Linked DNA regions of Homo sapiens: regions 1 and 2 are each reported to be linked to region 3. The links are microRNA targets in miRTarBase. Many come from high-throughput screens and were not tested one by one. Region 3 holds a microRNA gene; each other region holds the end of a gene's coding sequence.

Region 1 (7,182 bases), not on the chromosome of region 3:
TCCTTTGGCATCGCCCCTTGTCTCGGGCCGGTGGGGAGTGGGCGAGGGTTATAGTCACTCTCCCGACTCAGGGACTGCCCATCCCGGCACCCAGTCCTCATCCCATGGGACGTGGGGGCAGCCAGGGAGAGGGCAAAGGCCCCCGTTCCCGTCCAGGTCCATCCGTCCATGGAGGGAAACATCGTGGAGATGGAGGTGCTTCTGTGGGGCGAGAATGTGGCCTAGAACTACACCCAGAGTGGGGGGGTTGGGGCAGAGAGACATGGTCATGGACTGGGTCGTGGCTCAGGTCAGAATCTGGGCTGCTGATGGGATGCAGGTGGCAGCATGGGCACCTGCAAGACCCTCGGGGAGGGGTACTGAGTGGGGCCCGACCAAAGGTTTGGGACACTCTAAGACTGAGGCCCCCACCCTACAGTCACTCACTTCCCTCAGGACACAGGGCTGCAGGTGTGAGCTGAGCTGCCGATGGCTTGGGGACTGCAAGAGAGGCCTGGGCCACCGGCTGCTGTGGGTGGCTGCTCTCTCTGGTTCAGGAAGTGCCTAGGCTGGCCAAGTCTGGGGAAAGTGGGCTGGCCCGGGGCTGCTCCTGAGTTCTGCCAGGCAGCACCGCACCTGGGATGGGCACCAACCATGTCCGTCTCCTCCCTTCCTGCAGTCCAGGGCCAAGGCTTGTGTTCAATCGTGTGAATGGCCGGCGGGCCCCCTCCACGTCCCCATCCTTCGAGGGGACCCAGGAGACCTACACAGTGGCCCACGAGGAGAATGTCCGCTTTGTGTCCGAAGGTAGCGAGCGGGGCCAGAGGGTGCGGCATAGGCTGCTGGGTCGCAAAACCATGGACCCGGGATGGCCCCACTTCAAGCTGACCCACAGCCGCTGCATGGCTGTGCTTTTCCTTGGCACTCTGCCCTTGTGTCCTGTGACCAGCCCTGTGTGGGGCTGGAGTCCAGGGTGACCATCAGGCCCTGGGTGGGCGATGGGGTGCCTGGGACCTGGCTCAGCCCGACTGCCCTCCTCCCACAGCCTGGCAGCAGGTGCAACAGCAGCTGGATGGTGGCCCAGCCGGTGAGGGCGGGCCAAGGCCTGTGCAGTACGTGGAGAGGACCCCCAATCCCCGGCTGCAGAGTGAGCCCCCCAACCCTGTCCCCCCAGGAGAGACCCCCCAGCCCCTCTGATCCTGACCCAGGCCCTGCCAGGTTCCCACCCCAGGGGATGAGGGAGGGGACTCTTGTGCAGAAACCCCTTCTTCCCAGCGCCTGCCGCACTCGGAGTCCGGGTGAGCGGCTTGTGGTTAGCTCCAGGGGAGACTTGCCGGCTGGCCTGGGAGGCAGCATCACTGCCCAGCCTTCTCTGCCCACAGACTTTGTGCCCATTGACCTAGACGAGTGGTGGGCGCAGCAGTTCCTGGCGAGAATCACCAGCTGTTCCTAGTGGCTGCTGGGAGGGGGCGCTGCTACACGGCCGACCTGTCGCCAGGAGAGAAGCATGGCGCCCTGCCCACCCACTGCGCCTGGCTGGGTGCCGGCCACACCTGAAGTGCCAGCATTTGGACTTTTGCACCTTTTTTTCCCTTGGCCCGGCTGTCCCAACCAAGCTGCCATGGCCAAGGGCCGAACCCGTCTGACCTCAGCCCTGCTCACTGTGCCCAGGGACCAGCGACCAGCCCCTGGGGCTGGCAGGGAGGAGCTCCAGGCTAATAAAGTGGAGAAACTGTCTTTTTGGAGTGTCTTTGACTTGGGAGGGTGTAGGGGGGGTTCTCATGTCCAGTTCCAGTCCACAGCCTGGGACGCCAGGCCCAGCACAAACTCCCCTTGTAGCCCTGTTCCTTCAAGCCGTTAGCTTCTCACCCAGCTGCCCTGCGACAGGTAGGAGGGACGTTAGCCAGCCCACCTTGCTTGGAAGTCTGGGGACCCCACTTGGTTCCTCTTTCCTCTCCCGTTGGCGTTGACTGGGACCGAAGCCGAGACTCAAGGCCTAAAGACATTAAATGGCCCCGGAGTGCAGTCCACCACCCCCCACTACCGGCACTGGGGCTGTGTCTCAGAACGCCAGGTCCCATTCTGAATCCGCCGGGCCCGGCCGCAGGACACTGGGCGAAGGAGTACGTGGGGAACCTGATAGGACGAACGTGGGAACCAGCCCCTCCGCGGGCGCCCGCACTACCTTCCCTGATGGACGGGGATGACCCAGCCCACCTGAGTCAGGACCCAGGGTACCCAGGTGTGGAGCAGGGGCCTCTGGACGGCGAGAGAGCGGCAGGGTGAGGCCCGGCCGTCCGTGGCATGGCCAGGCCTCAGCGCGACCTCGCCTCGCTGCTTGCATGCGGCGGGAGCCCCGGCCGGCCGAGGCGCTGACAGGTGGGCGCGGCGGAGGATCCGCAACCGGCGCGGGCTTCGAAGCCGGTCGGGCTAACAGGGGGCTGCCTTGGGAGGCCCGCGGGGCAAAGGGCAGCGGGATTCGCGGCTGGAGCAACCCTGGAGGCCGCTGACGTGAGCGGGGTACTCCCACCGGGGAGGTCACGTGGCCAGGGCGCCGCCATGACGGCGGAAGTAATGGCGGAAGTGGCACCGTTGCCAGGCAGCCGTTGCCTGGCGTCGCGGGGCGTACTCTGCGCTGGGCGCGCGGAGGCCTAGGCGGGAAGCTCGAGCGGCGGCGCCATGGCCCGAGGTAGCGCGCGGCTGGCGGGGGTCCCGAGGATCCCGGGTTCCGGGGTTCCGGGGTCCAGGGTCGGCGGCCGGAGCGCTCAGGGCCCCCGCCTAGGCCCTGAGGCCAGAGTCCCCGCTCAGGCAGGGTCCCGTCTGCCGGGCGCCCACCCTCGGGCTCCCGGAGCTTGGCTTCCCTCGGGCGCCCGGCCTCGTCCCGCCAGCCTAGCTGGCGTTGGCGTCGCCGGGGAAGGCGCGGAGAGCCCCGGCTCCTGCCTGGTCCCCGAGGCCCGGCCCAGCCCCGCAGTGGCCCCGGCTCGCGTGGCCGAGTCCCCTGACGCCCGGCGCCCGCTCCCCGCAGCGTGGCAGCACCCGTTCCTCAACGTCTTCAGACACTTCCGGGTGGACGAGTGGAAGCGCTCCGCCAAGCAGGGGGACGTGGCCGTGGTCACGGTAGGCGGCCGGGGGCTCGCCCGGAGCCCACACCCCTGCCCTGCCCCCAGGAGAGCTGCCCCGCCCCCGAGGGCCCCCTCGCCCCCGCTGCACTTCTTCTGGGTGCTGTCGGTGATGCGGGCTCCCGCTTCTCCAGGACAAGACCCTGAAGGGCGCCGTGTATCGCATTCGGGGCTCAGTCTCTGCCGCCAACTACATCCAGCTCCCTAAGAGCAGCACCCAGTCTCTGGGGCTGACGGGACGATACCTGTATGTGCTCTTTCGGCCCCTGCCCAGCAAGCACTTCGTCATCCACCTCGATGTGTCCTCCAAGGTACGGAGCCCGCGGCTGGGGGCTGCGTGGGAGCCCCGGCACCCCTGCGGCCCCTGTCTCCTCACGGCCCTGCTCCGTCCCCACAGGACAACCAAGTCATCCGTGTGTCTTTCTCCAACCTCTTCAAGGAGTTTAAGTCTACGGCCACGTGGCTCCAGTTTCCCTTGGTCCTGGAGGCCAGGACACCTCAGAGAGGTGACACCAAGATGGGGTGTGGATGATCCAGGACAGGTGGCTGGAGGGAGTTGGTGCAGGCCCAGTGAGGCTCCTCTGCGGCCTGGAGGACAACCTGGCGGGGGCACAAGCTCACAGTTCTGGGAGTCGCGGGCTGTCAGGAGGGTGGGCGCTGACCCTGAGTGCCCATCCTGCAGATCTGGTGGGTTTGGCCCCCTCCGGAGCCCGCTGGACCTGCCTGCAGCTCGATCTGCAGGACGTTCTCCTGGTCTACCTGAACCGGTGCTACGGCCATCTCAAGAGCATCAGGCTGTGCGCCAGCCTGCTGGTCAGGAACCTGTACACCAGTGACCTGTGCTTTGAGCCTGGTGAGGGCCGCACCTGCACTCCCCACTCCATATCTCACCCATGCTCTCAGCCCTGGAGAGGCCCAAGTCCAGGGTGCTTGGGAAAATACAGTGCTCGAGCTGTGCTGTCTCTGAGCTCTGGCCAGAACCCATCCCAGAGGCAGCCCTGGGGTCAGAACCCATCCCAGAGGCAGCCCTGGGGTGGGGCGGTGGCTGGGCTGGTGGCGTGGCAGTGCCTTGGCGGGTGCCCTGTGTTCAGGTGGCTAAACAGCCTCCCTTGACCTGGAACAACCCTGCTCCTTGTAGCCATCTCTGGGGCCCAGTGGGCAAAGCTGCCCGTGACTCCTATGCCTCGGGAAATGGCATTCCCTGTGCCCAAGGGAGAGAGCTGGCATGACCGCTACATCCACGTCCGGTGAGTGGTTCTGCTTCTTTCGAGGGAGGCCTCGGTGGTGGGAGGGTGGGTGGCCCTTGGGCCCCCAGACACTGACTCTCCCTCTGCCTGCCAAGGTTTCCAAGTGAGAGCTTGAAAGTGCCTTCCAAGCCGATTGAGAAGAGCTGTTCCCCTCCTGAGGCAGGTGGGTCTGGGGGGTCAGCGGGGACCCAGGTTAAGGCCTGTAGGGTGCGTGGGGCTCGGTAGGAGAGGGCAGGGCTGGGAAAGGACCCAGTGGTGTGCTGGCTGCAGCTGGTGCAGGGACCCAGGGAAGCCCGTAGGTTGTCCGAGTTCCCAGAACCACGAGGGTGGGAAGTCTGTGTGAGGGGTACCCGGGGGCCCCAAGCTTTCTAGCTGGAAGAGGAGACTTTCAGGGCCTAGGGTGGAAGTGGGGATACTGGCTGTGGGTCCTGCAGAGCCGGTGAGGCTGGGCCACTTGCTGCTGCCCTCCCCAGGCGTCACCCTCACCAGGCATCTGCACAGCTGGCCCCTGGGTCACTGGGGTTCTTTGCTCTGTTCTAGTCCTCCTGGGGCCGGGGCCACAGCCTCTCCCTTGCCCGGTGGCCTCCAGCAAACCTGTGCGGTTCAGTGTGTCTCCAGTGGTCCAGACGCCCAGCCCCACAGCCGTGAGTACCCCCTTCGCCCTATGAGATGGGGTTGGGGTGTGATGGCCCAGGACGCTGATGGGCACTTGTCCCCCAGCAGTCCGGCCGGGCCGCCTTGGCACCCAGGCCCTTCCCGGAGGTCAGCCTGTCCCAAGAGCGCTCAGACGCCTCCAACGCGGATGGCCCCGGTTTCCATAGCCTTGAGCCCTGGGCCCAGCTGGAGGCCTCTGACATCCACACGGCTGCTGCCGGCACCCACGTGTTGACTCACGAGTCGGCTGAGGTGCCCGTGGCCCGCACCGGCTCCTGCGAAGTGAGTGCCCATCCCACAGCAGGCGGGGCCTGGTGAGGTGTGGGCTGGGGCAGCTGGTAGCCCGCCCCGAGATGCATTCAGAACGGATGTGCCTCCAACGGTCTCCTCTTGTTCAGCCTCCTGGCAAGGAGCAGAGCTGGCGGGAGGCGGCTTTGGGGAAGAATCTCTGTCCACAAAGAGTAAGGCAGGGCTTCTGCTCACCCCCAATGCGTCAGCCCCAGGTGGTCTGTGGGGGACCCTCGAAGGTCTGGCAGTGCAACTGGAGTCCCAGCTTCCACCTTACCACAGCCAGCAGGAGCCACCCAGGACCAGGGCAGTCTTCTTGAGAGGCAGGACCCAGCTAGGGGTTGGCGGGGCTCGGAGTTGGTCGGGCATTCTGGGGACCTGGCTGAGCCTCCCAGGACTTTGATGCGAATGGCTGTTTCAGGGCTTCCTCCCAGACCCAGTCCTGAGGCTCAAGGGCGTCATCGGCTTTGGGGGCCACGGCACCAGACAGGTGAGGCTCCTGCGGCTGTGTCCAGAGCAGCTCTCGTTGGCCGGCTCGAGCGCTGAGTACAGAACGGGGAGAGAGGAGAGACCTATGTCCTGTGGTGGCTGTGTGTGGGCTCCCGAGCCCCCCTGGCACAGCGGTCCCGTCCCCCTGCAGTCCGCTGCTTCCCGCGTGCTCAGGCATCTGCCCCGCCCACAGCTGCTGTCACCTCCTGGTGCCCGGGGGCTCTCAGGGTCACGGGCATCTCTTACTCACTGGCTGGGCTAAGTGCTCCCCCCGAAGACCCAGAGCTCTCACGTCTTTAGAGCTCTGATGATCCAGACCAGCAGTGTGGGGCCAGGCTGTGGGCACAACCTGTAGGTCCCTCATGGGTGACGTGGGCCTTCTAGGAGAGGAGCCCCATGGCAGAGGAGGTGGCCTTCCCCTCTGCCTCAGTGGCCTTGGGCCCTTGTCAGGCCCTGCTGGGTGCCTGCTCTGAGTGTTTGGGGGCCCTTTGGCCTTTTGTTACCCCCACCCCGGAGTTTCTTGCACTGGAGGCGGGGCTTAGAGGACAGGCGTCTGTGCATGTGTGTACACGTGTCTGCTTGAGTGTTCCAGCTGTTCTTTTGACACATGCAGCCTGTGACTCGTGTATGTAGTGTGTGCAGGGTGTGTGTTCTCTCTTGCCCCTGGGTGGCTGTGTGCCCAGGTGTGTGTGCCAGGCCTGCCACCCCCTCTCCCTGGGCTGGAGTGGGAGGTGAGGCTGACCTCCCGGCAGCCAGGAGGGGCCTGGCGTAGCACCGGTCCTCAGCCCCCCGCCCCCTTGTGCCAGGCCCTGTGGACCCCAGACGGGGCGGCTGTCGTGTACCCCTGCCATGCGGTCATCGTCGTCCTGCTCGTGGACACGGGGGAGCAGCGCTTCTTCCTTGGCCACACAGACAAGGTGGGTGCTGCCCGGGCCTGGGGCAGCTCACACCTGCAGCCCCTACACCCTCCCTCACCCTTCTGCCTCCTAGGTCTCCGCCCTGGCGCTGGATGGCAGCAGCTCACTATTGGCCTCGGCCCAGGCAAGGGCCCCTAGTGTGATGCGGCTCTGGGACTTCCAGACCGGGCGGTGCTTGTGCCTGTTCCGGAGCCCAATGCACGTTGTCTGCTCTCTCAGGTGAGCACAGGTCTGCCCCATGCAGGGGGAGGGGGTCAGCCCAGGCGACAATGACCACCTCCTCCCTGTTCACAGCTTCTCTGACAGCGGGGCCCTTCTCTGCGGGGTTGGCAAGGACCACCACGGGAGGACGGTAACAGGGCCCTGGCTGCGGGTTGGGGTGGGGCTGTCCTGATGCACGCAGACAGCTGGAAGGGTCTTGGTTTTCTGAAACTCCAGCTTCATGTGACCCTGGGTCCCTGCTCTGTGTCCTCCCTGTGGTGGGGCTCC
Region 2 (7,182 bases), not on the chromosome of region 3:
GCGGCTGGAGAGGGAGGCTGGAGAAGGGTGGGCAAGTGAGGCTGGCAAGCCTCTCCTGCACCCAGTGCGGCCTGGGCACCCGCTGCCTCTGCTCTTGCCTGCCTGTGGGCATCACCATGCCCCGATGCCTGACTACAGCTGCCTGAAGCCACCCAAGGCAGGCGAGGAAGGGCACGAGGGCTGCTCCTACACCATGTGCCCCGAAGGCAGGTATGGGCATCCAGGGTACCCTGCCCTGGTGACATACAGCTATGGAGGAGCAGTTCCCAGTTACTGCCCAGCATATGGCCGTGTGCCTCATAGCTGTGGCTCTCCAGGAGAGGGCAGAGGGTATCCCAGCCCTGGTGCCCACTCCCCACGGGCTGGCTCCATTTCCCCGGGCAGCCCGCCCTATCCACAATCTAGGAAGCTGAGCTACGAGATCCCTACGGAGGAGGGAGGGGACAGGTACCCATTGCCTGGGCACCTGGCCTCAGCAGGACCTTTGGCATCTGCAGGTGAGGGGCACCAGAGTGCGGAGTGCCCAGGGCAGAGGAGGTTCTGGAAGATGGTGGGGAAGTCAAGGGGGAACAGGGTGAGAAACAGCTAAGCCAGACAGAAGAGCCCCATCCTGCTCACAGCCCACCTCTCCCCTTCACTGCAGAGTCGCTGGAGCCGGTGTCCTGGAGGGAGGGCCCCAGTGGGCACAGCACACTGCCTCGGTCTCCCCGAGATGCCCCATGCAGTGCTTCGTCAGAGTTGTCTGGTCCCTCCACGCCCCTGCACACCAGCAGTCCAGTCCAGGGCAAGGAAAGGTATGCAGAGGGGCCGGGGATGCTCGAGTGCTTTCTTGTCCAAGCAGTTGATGAAGGCAGGTGGGGTGGGAGCAGCCACAATGGGGGCTCTGCTGACCATCTGCCCTTCCACCCTACAGCACCCGGCGACAGGACACCAGGTCCCCCACCTCAGCGCCCACTCAGAGACTGAGTCCTGGCGAGGCCTTGCCCCCTGTTTCCCAGGCAGGCACCGGAAAGGCCCCTGAGCTGCCGTCGGGAAGTGGGCCTGAGCCTCTGGCCCCTAGCCCAGTCTCTCCGACCTTCCCTCCCAGCTCGCCCAGTGACTGGCCTCAGGAAAGGAGTCCAGGGGGCCACTCAGATGGCGCCAGTCCTCGGAGCCCTGTGCCCACCACACTTCCTGGCCTCCGCCACGCCCCCTGGCAAGGCCCTCGAGGCCCCCCCGACAGCCCAGATGGGTCTCCCCTCACTCCTGTGCCTTCCCAGATGCCCTGGCTTGTGGCCAGCCCAGAGCCGCCTCAGAGCTCACCTACACCTGCTTTCCCCCTGGCTGCCTCCTATGACACCAATGGCCTTAGCCAGCCCCCACTTCCTGAGAAACGCCACCTGCCCGGGCCGGGGCAACAGCCAGGACCCTGGGGCCCAGAGCAGGCATCATCGCCAGCCAGAGGCATCAGTCACCATGTCACCTTCGCACCTCTGCTCTCAGATAATGTCCCCCAAACCCCAGGTATAAAGGCCTTGAGGGGGTTGGTGCCACCTTGAGAGAACCCTTTCTCCTGGGATGTAGCATGGATGGGGACCCGGGTACCCTGGGGTCTGAACCTACTCCCTCCCTGTCCTAGAGCCTCCTACACAAGAGAGCCAAAGCAATGTCAAGTTTGTCCAGGATACATCCAAGTTCTGGTACAAGCCACACCTGTCCCGTGACCAAGGTGAGAAGCCAGCCTGCCCCCACCCCACTGCATCCCACCTTCCAGGGTGTCTGTCTTGGCTTTAAGTCCCATCCTGTTGAAGCTCTTGGCTCCTCCTGTCTGAGCTGTGTTTACTCTTGGCTGAGTGTTTACCAGCAGGTGATTCTGGGCTTTGGGCCAAGGCGGTGAGATCCAACATGGTCAAAACCCCTGTGAACTCTAGAGCCCTGGCCTCAGACTCTTACCGCCACCACAGCTGTCAGGGCAGAGACCATGGAGCTTGGCAGCAGAGGAGGGGGGCTGCATGGGGCTCAGTCCACCCCTGTGAAAACTCCTCCCCACTGCCCGCTACCCCTCACCCTGCAGCCATTGCCCTGCTGAAGGACAAGGACCCTGGGGCCTTCCTGATCAGGGACAGTCATTCATTCCAAGGAGCTTATGGGCTGGCCCTCAAGGTGGCCACACCGCCACCCAGTGCCCAGCCCTGGAAAGGTACAGAACACCCAAACCTGAGTGGGGTGGGGATGAAGTTGGGGGTGGTGCCAGAGGCAAGGTAACAGGGCAGGTGGGGGTGCTGTGCTGGCCATGCCGCTGTAGAGGGGAGAGGTAGGAAAAGACCTCAGCTGCTCGGGAAAGAATCCCATTAGGGAAGAAGCTGGAACCTGGAATCCTAAAGCCGCAATCTTCCCCTCGCCTCCTCTCAGGGGACCCCGTGGAACAGCTGGTCCGCCATTTCCTCATCGAGACTGGGCCCAAAGGGGTGAAGATCAAGGGCTGCCCCAGTGAGCCCTACTTTGGTGAGAAGCAGGAGCCTGGGGAAGGCTACGTTGGGTCGGTTTAGGGAGATGCCAAGGGATCTCAGGAGGATGGAAGGGAAAGGCGGGGCACCCTGGGCATCTCGGGACTTTCCTACCTCCTCTCCCACAGGCAGCCTGTCCGCCTTGGTCTCCCAGCACTCCATCTCCCCCATCTCCCTGCCCTGCTGCCTGCGCATTCCCAGCAAAGGTGAGTGTCTGGTCATCTGTCCTCCCCACCTCTCCCTACCCCCTGCAGCCAAAGCAGGATCCAGAGGTCTTGGCTCCCCGCCTTCCCTTGGGGAAGCAGAGGGAGTGCTCCAGCCTGGGGAACACTCTGCCTTCTGAGCTTCCCTGTCGGTTCTCATTGCCCTCAGATCCTCTGGAAGAGACCCCAGAGGCTCCAGTGCCCACCAACATGAGCACAGCGGCAGACCTCCTGCGTCAGGGTGCTGGTAGAGACTTCCCCTCCACTCCCCTCCCTCTCCCTGGGCACCAAGGGGGCATTGTGGATACAGGGCATGGGGCACTGAAAGGCCTTGAGGTGGGTGAGCCCTGGCCAACCCATGAGGGCAGGGGAGCCCCATACTGTCGGGGATGAGGAATTGGGTCCTCAGCCTAGGTTCTCAAAGTCTCATGAACAAGACGATCATGGGGTGGTAGCAGGGAGGCTTCTCTGCCTCGCTTCTGACTGTAGATCCAGTAGAGTCATGGAATCTGCCTTTTTAACAAGTCACCTATGTGATTGTAAAGCATGTGACAGCAGTAGCTGGGGAATGTGCAAGAGCTGGTGGGGGTGGCTAGGGGATGGGCACTCCCTCCCTGACCCACTCCCTGCCCCTGTAGCCTGCAGCGTGCTCTACTTGACCTCAGTGGAGACAGAGTCACTGACGGGCCCCCAAGCTGTGGCCCGGGCCAGCTCTGCAGCTCTGAGCTGTAGCCCCCGCCCGACACCAGCTGTTGTCCACTTCAAGGTGTCAGCCCAGGGCATTACACTGACGGACAACCAAAGGAAGTATGTATACTCAGCCCTGTAGAACCCCATGCTTAAGGCCCCTGGGGGCTCATGTTTCTGAGTGTGACCTTCCTCACCCTCCTCCTTGCAGGCTCTTCTTTCGCCGCCATTATCCAGTGAACAGCATCACCTTCTCCAGCACTGACCCTCAAGACCGGAGGTGACTCTCCCTCCAAACCCTTTGCCCCAAATCCCCATGGTCCCACCAGGTCCCAGCTCCCAGCCCCAGCCCCAGCCCCGGCCCCGGCCCCCCTTCAGCAGCTGTCCCCTGGGGTGTGCATCTTCACCTTCTTCTCCTTCTGCAGATGGACCAACCCAGACGGGACCACCTCCAAGTAAGCCTCCCCACGAATTCAGCCTCTTCCTTCCAAGGGACCAGGGCGCTGCTGTCCTCTCAATGCTGGCATTTGATTTGTCTCACCAAGGCCAGCTACATTCCCTTGTGGAAGGAATGTTAAGCCCCTTCCCCACCCTTTATCCCCCTAGGATCTTTGGTTTCGTGGCCAAGAAGCCGGGAAGCCCCTGGGAGAATGTGTGTCACCTCTTTGCAGAGCTTGACCCAGATCAGCCTGCTGGCGCCATTGTCACCTTCATCACCAAAGTTCTACTGGGCCAGAGAAAATGAAGGAAGGCCACAAGCTCAGAGCCCACATCAACACTGCCCCCCTCCCAGCACCCCACAGCCCTCACATCCCCTGGCCTGGACCCAGGAGACCCAGGAGAAAGCACCCTCCCTTAGGAATGAGGAGTGGGCATCAGGCCTGGGACACTGCTCTCCTTCCCCGCCCCCAGCCTGCTAAGTTAAGTGGACAGGCCCACAAGATGACCTTGCATGTGAGCAGATGGCAGAGATGGGTGTGTGAGGGGTGAGGAGGCATCAGCAGTTGAGCCCCGAAGGAGATCAGGCAGCCCCACCTGCAGGAGAACGTCAGCCCTCCAGGGGATCAGCCCCTGCCAGTTCCACCCAGCTGCAGGTGCCAGCACGGCAGGGATGGGAGAGGGGTGGGGAGCGAGTCACTGCCTCCTCTGAGCAGAGATTCAGAGTAGGATCACATGAATAGGGGAAAAAAGAGAGTCTATTTTTGTCTAATAATAAAGAATTTCTATAAACTTTAGCCGAAATTGGAGTCAACACTTATTCACAGGAAGGTCAAAGCCTCATCTCCCAGGGGACGTATCTGTGCTCAGGCCTGTAGCCAGGCCCATGGAACATATGATTCCCATCCCTGGCCCAACATTGGTCCACATCTCCCCATGAGCAAGCTGCCTTCGGCTGCCCCCATCCAGCAGTCCTGTTCCTAGCCCAGTGGACTAGAAAGGCTCCTGGTTCCGGCCATACTGATAAATACGGAAACTCCATCTTTATCGGCTGTATAAACATCTCTGGTCTGTACATACATTTCATACATCGTAGGGTGGGAAGCGAGGGCCAAAGGGAGGCCCAGCAGCACAACAGCTCACCCGCTTTCCCTACAGCCCTACCCGCTCTGTGCAAACCAAGGCCAACAGCTCCTGCTGCCTCTTCCTCCCTGGAAAAGTCACTGTTACGGGGAGGGGGCCAGGGGTTGAAGGATTAGAAGGAGATAGAGGGCTTGGTGGGGAGGACACATGTAAGTGCTAGAATCAAACACTGAAGCGAAACAGGCAACTGGCACAAGCAGCAAGCTGAGGCATGGGACGGGGCAGGAAAAGGGGAGGGAGGGGCCACGCTGCCCCTCTGGGCTTGCTCAGCTAAGGCTCTGGGGTCTTGCCCTCACGCTGGCAGGGAGACAGGCCCCAGAGCCTCAGCCCCAATACCCGGGAGCTAGGGACATGGGTGGCACTGGTAAAGAAAGGATGGAAGGGGAGAAAGGAGTGAAGGCCCTAGTGCCCTGTCACCTCACAGCCCCTCTCTCTTAAACATGCAACAGGCACCCACCCATGTGGGTCCAGGTATGGGGAGCCAGAGACCTAGATCCTCTGTGGTGCCTGAGCAGGTTGGGGTGGGGAGCCAGCTCTCAAGGGAAAGATGGAGAGCCTAGAGGAGTCTTCCTGGGGCAGCAGCCAGTGAAAGGACAGAGATGACCAAAGAGAGGTCCCCTGGCCCTGCCAGGGGTATGACAGCAGCAACTGGTTCACACAACCAGGAAAGAAAACAAGAAAGAGGAATTCAAGGAGAAATACCATGGTGAGTAGGGGAGGGGGCTGTCTACTCTACCCTCTACAAAGCATCATGCCCGAATAGCAGCTGAGATAGGGTGCTCACGCCTCTCCACCCACACAGGGCCGGTGAGGGAAAGGGGGACCCAGAAGCCCACTGACCAAAGCGAGTGGGACCACCCACATACCAACACCATTCTTTGGGTCCATTCCTGTCCAACCAGGGACTCAGGCCCAGGGACTGACAACAGTGGCAGCACCAGGTCAGAAACGTGGGCACAGAGAAGCGTGACAGGGGCCTGAGCCAGTGGGGGCAGAGTGACTACACACCTCCAGGGGCCTGCTGGGTAAACGAAGCCTCTGGGAAGTCAGGAACTGGGTGCCTGGCCCAGCAGAGGGTGAGCAGGGAGAAGGAGCAGGTCTGGAGGGGAGGCCCTAGCCACTCAAGGGGTGCAGATCTACTTTGACTTTCTCCCCGCAGCTCAGCATTCCAATGGTGGGGAAGAAGCCTCCAGAAGGAACAACAGCATCCTTCTTCCCAATGATCTTGCCATTCCGAGTGAAGAAAACCTGGGGAGGAGGTGGGGAGAAGAATGGAGCAAGCAGGCTGTGGCCTCTTCCCTGAGGATGCTGGAGCTCCACAGGCCTGAACCCCAATCACCCCAGCTTCCAGCGGGGCTGGAGAGGGGCAGTTAAGGTGTTATGGGAAGTGACCACCAGAGGGCGTGCTGAGGCCGGAAAACAGCCTCCCAAGACCGTCTCCCGATCTCAGCAACCCCTGGAGCTGGGAACAGCCCTTGGGCAACGCCAGAGCTTCCCGTCTTTCCCACCCTGGTTGTGAGTTCTGTTCCCCACTAATACCCACCCTTTGCCCAGACCCAAAAACCCTGGTCCCACCTCAAACTCTCCGTACTCACCACCACCTTCCTGCCCTCATGCTCCGGCTCTATCTCTTCCCCATCCTCTTCCTCTTCCTCTTCCTCCTCTTCCTCTTCCCCTTCCTGGTGCAGGTACATGACATTCCGCACGTTCCGGACGGCCCGGGCAGTCGGAGACAGGATCACTGTGTCACAACTGTCATCACTGTCCCCTAGGAGACCAGGAAACCTGAGCTCCTGTGGTGCCTTTCCACCCTCGGCCCCAAGCAGCCTGGCTGGCCACCCCTACCCCACTCACCCTCACTGTCCAAAATGTAGTCCCGGGGGAACATGATTCCACAGCCCATGATGTCCCCTTTGTAACAGCGTGGCCCAAAGGGGTCCCCCACACCACTGCCATGGAAGATCTTCCCATCGTCTGTTGGAGGGAGGGGAAAGGACAAACACTTGAGGAAGGAGGGCTGACACCACACCCCCAGAGTGGCTCATGAAGCTGAACACTTCCCACCCCTCAGAGGAAGGGAAGGGTCAGGGCGGAAACAAAGATGGAGAGAGAGGCCGGGCGCGGTGGCTCACGCCTGGAATCCCAGGACTTTGGGAGGCCAAGGAGGGTGGATCACCTGAAGTCAGGAGTTTGAGACCAGCATGGCCAGCATGGCGAAACATCTC
Region 3 (7,182 bases):
TGAGGACAATCTTTCTGACGTTAATGACTGTATGGCATTTGGCATGCTGCCCGCAGAGGTTAAGAAATGGGTTTCTGTCGGGCGCAGCAGTTCACTCCTATAATCCCAGCTACTCGGGAGGCTAAGGCAGGAGGATCACTTGAGGCCAGGAGCTGAGACCAGCCTGGGCAACAGAGCGAGACCTGGCCTCTTATAAAAAATTTAAAAACAAAAGATGGGTTTTAGATTTTTAGTTAGCATATCTCTTAAGAAAAGTGTTGCAGCTTCTGTCACCTCACGACTTAAAGGGCAAAGCGAGGGTCTGGAATCAGAGCGACCAGTCCCAGACCCAGCTTCACCATTTCCTGGCTTGTGACCTCATTCAGGTTACTAAACTTCTCCAGGCCTCAGTTTCCTCTTCTGAAACTGACGCTGAAGGCTGATACTAACTTAAAGAGCTATTGGAAGAATTAATGAGATGCCATCCCGGAATGCCCAACCCAGGGCCTGACATATCATAGACACTCACTAAATTCCATTTCCTTCCTCCAGCCCCAGGAAGTCTCACCTGTGTGCGTTCTCAGGAGACACATTCTTAATTAAATCTCCCCTAGAAAGAGCAGGCACCACTTTACCTCCAACCAGGGGTTTGTGGGGAAGAGGCTTTGCACAACAAGACACATGGGGACCCTCTCAGAGGGCTTGACCCTTCCCCCAAAAGATCGGATTCTCCAAAGACAGAAGCACCTCCAATCTGCTCTTCCCAGTGAGACCAAGAAACCGGTTCTCCCTCCCCACCCCCAATTCTCACCCCAGTTCCTGAGCCAGCCCAGCCTCTGCACCCAGAGTTCTGTGCTTCCTCATTTTCTGCCCTCGGTTTGGGACGATAAATGCAAGAGCTCAGAGAAAACAGCCTGAGACCAGAGGCCACAAACAATGTGTGCATGGATGCTACCGCTCTAGAAGGACTCTGGTGGAGATGCTGGGGATGGGGGAGCAGGAGCAGGATTTGGATTAAGGAGGGTAAGAGGGGTTGATGATGCTTTCAACTTAATCTTGGGAAAATCTCGAGGGCTTCCTGGAGCTGGTGTCTTTCCCTCTGGGCAATATAAGTGCCTTTTGGGAGGAGGCATCAGCTTCAGGGGGGATGGGGCCAGCTCTGCAGGGGAGTCAAATTGGGAACTGGCTCGGCCACTCTGGAGGTGTTATGCCTGGCTAGAAAGGATGGGAGATTGGAGCAGCACATGTGGTGAGGGTCAGAAGCAAGGAGCAGGGTCCTGGCAGCAGGCTGTGAAAAGGGCCCTGGGGTCCTAGAGCAAGCCCTGGTCTTGGAGTCCTACAGACACAGGCCCAGGCCCAGCCCTGCTACTTATCATCCATCCACAAGGCCCGGGGCAAGTTATTCTTCTCTCTGCCTCCAGTGACCTCATCTCTAAGGTGGGAATAATAAATCCTGACCACCTACAGTGGTGAGGATTAAATGAGCCCCATGGGTGAGCGTGCCTGGCATCATGCCAGCCATGGGATGGCGAACAAAGACAATCAACGCGATCAGTCACTTGGTAAATATTCATAATTATTAGATGTGTTGAGTTCTGTGCTGGGTACACCAAACTCTTTTTAGGGAACCTCCCCACCCTCACTTCCCTGGTCACCCCATGGTGACCCAGAAGAGCAAATTACCTGAGTAGCACTATGTTTGTCCCAGCCACTGGTGCCCTGGGTACCCAAAAGAATTGTGGCCACGCAGGGAAGAGGCCAAAGTGGGGGGAGATATCACCATGTGGACCCTGGGTCTCCTCAGAGATCAGAGGCCAACCAGGACCCCATCAAGAAAAACTGGACATACTGCCAAGAGATATTTGCAAAAGGAAAAGTAATTCTTTATTACATGAACAGACACTGTACAAATGAGCTTGTTACACAATACAGCTGCATCTCCTTGCTCCAAAGAAGGTGGGGAGAGGCAGAGGGGGAATAGAGCGCATGCAAAGCCCTGAAATAAAAGACCGAGGGACCCTTTTCAGCTCTCTGAAGGCAGGGACTGGAGTTTGCATGTGCAGGCCCTCTGGCCAGTCCTCCACTTGGCCTGATGAGAGTGGGGAGTGGCAAGGGACGTTTCTCCTGCAATAGACACTTAGATTTCTCTCTTGTGGGAAGAAACCACCTGTCCATCCACTGACTCTTCTACATTGATGTGGAAATTGCTGCTGCTACCACCACCTCCTGAAGAGGCTAGAGAGAGAAGGAGTAGGCTTTAGAGTGGGGGAACCTCCCCGCTCTGCCACGGTGGCCAGGACCTTGGCGGGGCTCTGGGAAAACTAGACAGCACCCCTGAGAATGGCCACTGGCCAATCCCTCAAGAGCTGCCAGAGATCTGGTGTTGAATTCCTCATCACAGAGATGGGCAGTGGCAATGGCAGGTATGCCCGGCAGGGAGCAACAATGTCAGGGTTTTTCAAGCTGCACATGAAGGGGGATGAATTGTGGGCATCTTAGCGGAAGTGTATGAAGATGGGGCCTGGGGGAGAGACATGCCCTGAATGAAGCCTACTCAACCTGGAAGTTTCTCAATAAATCACCAGCTGCAATCTCACCTGGGGCTGACAGAAGTTCCCACTGGGGAAGAGGCATCTAATGAATGGGAATGTTCCCACCTAATGGGATGTTTGGGCTCTTTCTCCTTCCTCCCTATTCCGAAGGGGGTGGTGGCTTCAACATCTCCCCTCCCCACCCCACACCAGAAGAGTAAAGCCTTCCTACCTTCCCTGATGGCAATGCCAGCCATCCTGAAAGAAAGAGGGAAGCTGATTTAAGCAAAGGGCACAAGCTCAAGTGTCCGTAAGGGAAGCTCATGTAGATAGCTATGCAGTGTTCTTCAGACCCTACACCACCACCACCCACACATCTGACTCCTCTAGGGGTGGGACATCCTGCTAGCCCATCCAGGCCTGCTATCCCCAAGTAGACAGATTTTGTTTTGTTTTGTTTTGTTTTTTGAGACGGAATCTCACTCTGTCGCCCAGGCTGGAGTGCAGTGGCACGATCTCAGCCCACTGAAACCTCCGCCTCCCGGGTTCAAGTGATTCTTGTGCCTCAGCCTCCCGAGTAGCTGGGATTACAGGCACCCGCCACCACGCCCAGCTAATTTTTGTATTTTTAGTAGAGACGGGGTTTCACCATATTGGCCATGCTGGTCTCGAACTCCTGACCTCAAGTGATCCACCCGCCTTGGACTCCCAAAGTGCTGGGATTACAGGCATGAGCCACTGAGCTGGTCAAGATTCTGAACTACAAGAATACCCATCTATCTCATGCAGAGAATGGAATGAGCACTAGATCTTAACTACCACTAGCCCAGCCTCTATCATTTACAGAAGAAACACGGATCCAGAGAGAGGAAGTGACCTGTCCCAGGTAACAGCCAAGGACCAGAGTGAGGAGTCCAGATCCTCCCTCCTTGCTCAGTTCTCTTTTCACAGTCCCTCAAGGCTGCTTAGGGACACCCTGCCATTCCCTTAGGATGACCCTGCACCCTAGCCACAAGCAGCCCTCATCACTCCTTCCCCTGTGCCCAGGCGCCTACTTGGCATCCTGGCCCTCGAGCAGGCTGCGGTAAGTAGCGATCTCCTGCTCCAGCCGTGTCTTTATGTCAAGCAGCATCTTGTACTCCTGGTTCTGAGCCTCCATCTCGCATCGGAGCTCACTCAGCTGGGCCTCCAGGCCACCAATGAGCCCCTGGATCTGCTGCAGCTGCGTGGCATAGCGGCACTCTGTCTCGGCCAGTGAGTTCTCCAGCCCAGCTTTCTGGGGGAGTGACAGATGCATAGACACATCAGGCTAGAAAGGAAGCCACTGAGGGCAAGCAGGGAGGGGGCACTGAATGGAGTTCAGGGAACCACCTCTTGAGGGGGCTTGAGAACTCCAAGGCTTAAATAGCCAGGAAGAGTGGGAGCTTCTACCACCCGAGAGGCTGGGATGGGGCGCGAGTGGCCGTACCATGCTGAGCTGGGACTGCAGCTCGATCTCCAGCTCCTGCATCGTGCGTCTCAGGTCTGTGATCTCCGTCTTGCTGGTCTGGATCATTTCTGTGTTGGAGGCCACCTCTTTGTTCAGCTCCTCAGTCTGTAGGTCATGCACAACAGAAGTGAGCCCCGGGGCCTCCTCGGAGACTCAGGGACCTGGGGCAGGAAGGGCAGGGCAGGATATAAGGCCCACCTTGCTGAAGAACCAGGCCTCGACATCCCGGCGGTTCTTCTCCGCCATGGCCTCGTACTGCTCCCTCATCTCTGCCAGCACACGGGTCAGGTCCACACCCGGTGCTGCGTCCATCTCCACATTGACCTGGCCGGCCAGCTGGCTGCTGAACTCCTTCATCTCCTGCAGGATGGGAGGGACCCACTTAGAGACGGAGAGCAGAAGAGAGACCTGAGAGTCTGGCGTCACACATGCCAATCCTGGCTCTGCCCGTAACACACCCCAACCGCTGTTCCCCATTGCACATGAAGAGGTTTGGTCACATGGACCCCTCAGCTCTAAGGAGTTCTCTGCTGCTCTAGGTCCTACCAAGGGAGGACCCCGAGACTGTAGGGCCCTGATGTGAGCTCACAAAGCCAATCAGGAAGTCAACCATTCATACGGGCCACCTGGGCTGGCTGTGGGCCTGGGCTACCAGACACTGCCCCTTCCTCTCCATGAGGACACCTGGTTTTGTGGGGTAGGTGTGTTTCTGAACCACTAAGCCCCAGGCCAACTATGAGGAAGTACCAACAGCCCCACTCTGCCTCCCACTGACTTAATCTCGTGAAAATCTGGGAGGGCTTCCTGGAGCCACTGTCTTTCCCTCTGGGCAATTTAAGTGAGTTTTGGGAAGAGGTTCCCCACCTCTCTCGGGTTCAGGGGTGATGGGGGCCAGCTCTCACCTCTTCGTGGTTCTTCTTCAGGTAGGCTAGCTCCTCATTCAGGCCCTCGATCTGCATCTCCAGGTCAGTCCTGGCCAGGGTCAGCTCATCCAGGACTCGGCGCAAGCCGTTGATGTCAGCCTCAACGCCCTGGCGCAGGGCCAGCTCATTCTCATACCTGAGGAGAGGGAGGCCAAAGAAGGAAGTGGGAGGGGTCTTGGCTGCCTGAGTCAGAGCCAGGAGAAGGCCAAGTAAAGTGGGCAATGCAGGAAGAGGAGAGAGACGGGGGAGCGCACTTGAGCCTGAAGTCGTCCGCAGCCAGCCTGGCATTGTCGATCTCCAGGATGACCCGGGAGTTGTCGATGGTGGTGGCCATGATCTGCAGGAGACAGAGTCGGTGTCTAGAGGACTCCTCTCTCTCCCCTGCTGCTCTCTGCTCTGCACCCAAGGCCAGCCCCTCATTGAAAATCACCCCTCACTGACAATCACCCCTCTGACACCACCAACAAAAATCTGTACGGCTTCTGGGGTGGGCAAAGTCCAGCCTCACTTTCAGTGTCCATTTCTTGTTTTGTCCCATCCAGCCTCCTTGAGACACCTGAGGAGCTGCCTTCCTTATCTCCAGGGCACGAAAGACCAAGGAGGCAGTATTGCCTGTGGGAATTGGTTGCCCAGGAGAGTGGGGCAGTGGGGTGCAGCCAGCTCTGACAATAGCTCTCTCAGAGACACTCCACCAGCCCCACTGTGGACAACTCATGGTCACTGCCTCCTGCACACCTTGGACACAGCCATGGATCTACAGAACATTCCAGCCAGTAGCAACCTGGAGGGCAGTTAAGAAGGCATTTTACGAATGAGGAACCCAGTCTTAGGGAGTAAAATGGTGAGTGAGTGGGTGGCAGAATGTGTAATGAGTTCCCAGGTCTCCTAAGACCCAACAGTACTTTTGGCACAAAAGACCTCTTTATAGGAAAAGACAAGAGGTTCTAGCATCTGGAACTCATGAGGCCACACTCCAATCCCATTCTTGCAAAAGAGGTAAAGGAATACTTTATGCAGAAGCCTGCAGGGTGCATGAGGTAGGGAGGGCGAGTTGCTCTTTTTTTTTAATTATTTTTATTTAATTAGATACAGGTTCCACTCTGTCACCTAGGCCGGAGTGCAGTGGCACAGTCATAGCTCACTGCAGCCTCTAAATCCTGGACACGAGCAATCCTATCACCTTGGCCCCCCAAAGCACTGGGATTACAGGTGTGAGCTACTGCCTCTGGCTCTTTATAATTGCCCCCACCTGTGCCCCTGTTGGTCCTAACCAGATTCCCAAGACCCCTCTCTCCCTCCCCCAGCACCACCAAGTTGAGAAGATGTGCACTGGCCTCTGCACCTGGACAGCAGGTGCATTCCAAATTTGCTGAGATTACATACCAGACAGTCATTGCCTGGGCAGGAAAGGATTTCCTTGAGTCAGCAGTAACACTGACATTAGAGCTGTGTACAGGGTACCAGCCACCTGCTCCCCTCTCTTTGACATCCGAGGACTCACCTTGTCCCGGAGCTCTTCAATGGTCTTGAAGTATTGGCTGTAGTCGCATTCTGGGCTGGTTGGGGTCTGCTTCTGGTACCAGTCATGGATCTTCACCTCCAGGTCAGCATTGGCCTCCTCCAGGGCACGTACCTTGTCCAGGTAGGAGGCCAGGCGGTCATTGAGGTTCTGCATGGTAATTTTCTCATTGCCAGAGAGGAGACCACCATCGCCACCACCAAAGCCACCACCAAAACCCCCACCAACGCCCCCTCCAAAGCCTCCACCGAAAACACTACCAGCCCCTCCACCAAAGCCACAGACCCTCATGCCACCCCCATATCCTCCTCCTGACCCTGAAGAGACAAACCTAGCAGAAGAAGCTGAGATACTTCGGCTTCCACCTCCCCCAGAGAGACTCCCCCCACCAAAGCCACCTCCCCCAGCCAGGAGGGAACCCCCTCGGGTTGAGCCACCCCCAAAGGTGGAGGAAGAAGTTTGCAGAAATGTGGTGGTCATGGCCAGGTAGCTGGAGCCCGTGAGTTCTCAGCAAACCCAAGAGATGCTGGCAGGAGGTACCAGGCCAGGCTGCACGCTGGGGCTCCTTATATACCCTTCAGAGGGTGTTGTGGGACCTCGTCTCCTCCCCTAAAGCAAAGCCAACTCCTTCTGCCTTCCTGACAAACACAGCTGCCTGCACACCTTGAGTGGGTCATGTGAAGTTTTTCTCTTCTATTTTTTTTTAATGCAACAAAAGAGATGATTCAGAATTAATAGTGT

Evidence for each region. Region 3 holds the annotated microRNA hsa-miR-6510-5p (CAGCAGGGGAGAGAGAGGAGUC, at 5,288-5,309, opposite strand). A microRNA usually pairs through its seed, bases 2 to 8, with sites in the 3' UTR of a target mRNA and lowers its output. Matches are read on the target gene's strand: a 7mer-m8 pairs with bases 2 to 8, a 7mer-A1 pairs with bases 2 to 7 and ends in A, and an 8mer does both.
Region 1: miRTarBase lists MCRIP2 as a target of hsa-miR-6510-5p. Seed matches in the 3' UTR shown: 7mer-m8 at 1,632-1,638.
Region 2: miRTarBase lists SPRYD3 as a target of hsa-miR-6510-5p. Seed matches in the 3' UTR shown: 7mer-m8 at 6,037-6,043.

What each region holds. Positions count from the first base shown.
Region 1 is chr16:646,759-653,940 of GRCh38, forward strand. It overlaps MCRIP2 (MAPK regulated corepressor interacting protein 2), which reads left to right. Exons shown (of 5, transcript NM_138418.4): 3 at 659-786; 4 at 1,025-1,126; 5 at 1,362-1,716. The coding sequence ends at 1,432. WDR90 (WD repeat domain 90) reads left to right here and starts at 2,607. Exons shown (of 41, transcript NM_145294.5): 1 at 2,607-2,668; 2 at 3,005-3,096; 3 at 3,233-3,409; 4 at 3,496-3,604; 5 at 3,781-3,951; 6 at 4,237-4,345; 7 at 4,441-4,508; 8 at 4,886-4,989; 9 at 5,069-5,281; 10 at 5,709-5,777; 11 at 6,583-6,693; 12 at 6,767-6,912; 13 at 6,988-7,045. The coding sequence starts at 2,659. LOC105371038 (a long non-coding RNA gene) reads right to left here and starts at 2,555. Exons shown (of 2, transcript NR_135177.1): 1 at 2,197-2,555; 2 at 1,700-1,857. RefSeq lists enhancers at 1,172-1,221, 2,644-3,466 and silencers at 2,642-2,741, 2,852-2,981.
Region 2 is chr12:53,059,762-53,066,943 of GRCh38, forward strand. SPRYD3 (SPRY domain containing 3) reads right to left here. Exons shown (of 11, transcript NM_032840.3): 9 at 6,812-6,931; 10 at 6,553-6,725; 11 at 4,555-6,205. The coding sequence ends at 6,071. It overlaps TNS2 (tensin 2), which reads left to right. Exons shown (of 29, transcript NM_170754.4): 18 at 1-497; 19 at 644-794; 20 at 914-1,503; 21 at 1,619-1,708; 22 at 2,054-2,179; 23 at 2,392-2,484; 24 at 2,615-2,692; 25 at 2,859-2,936; 26 at 3,328-3,496; 27 at 3,588-3,656; 28 at 3,802-3,831; 29 at 3,983-4,618. The coding sequence ends at 4,121. Among named protein-coding and RNA genes, the nearest start is that of MIR6757, 6.4 kb to the left of the region's middle. RefSeq lists an enhancer at 6,178-6,679.
Region 3 is chr17:41,511,907-41,519,088 of GRCh38, forward strand. MIR6510 (microRNA 6510) reads right to left here and starts at 5,311; the gene lies at 5,258-5,311. KRT15 (keratin 15) reads right to left here and starts at 6,984. Exons shown (of 8, transcript NM_002275.4): 1 at 6,424-6,984; 2 at 5,177-5,259; 3 at 4,902-5,058; 4 at 4,198-4,359; 5 at 3,979-4,104; 6 at 3,566-3,786; 7 at 2,743-2,768; 8 at 1,839-2,214. The coding sequence starts at 6,921. The coding sequence ends at 2,117. RefSeq lists an enhancer at 4,735-5,619.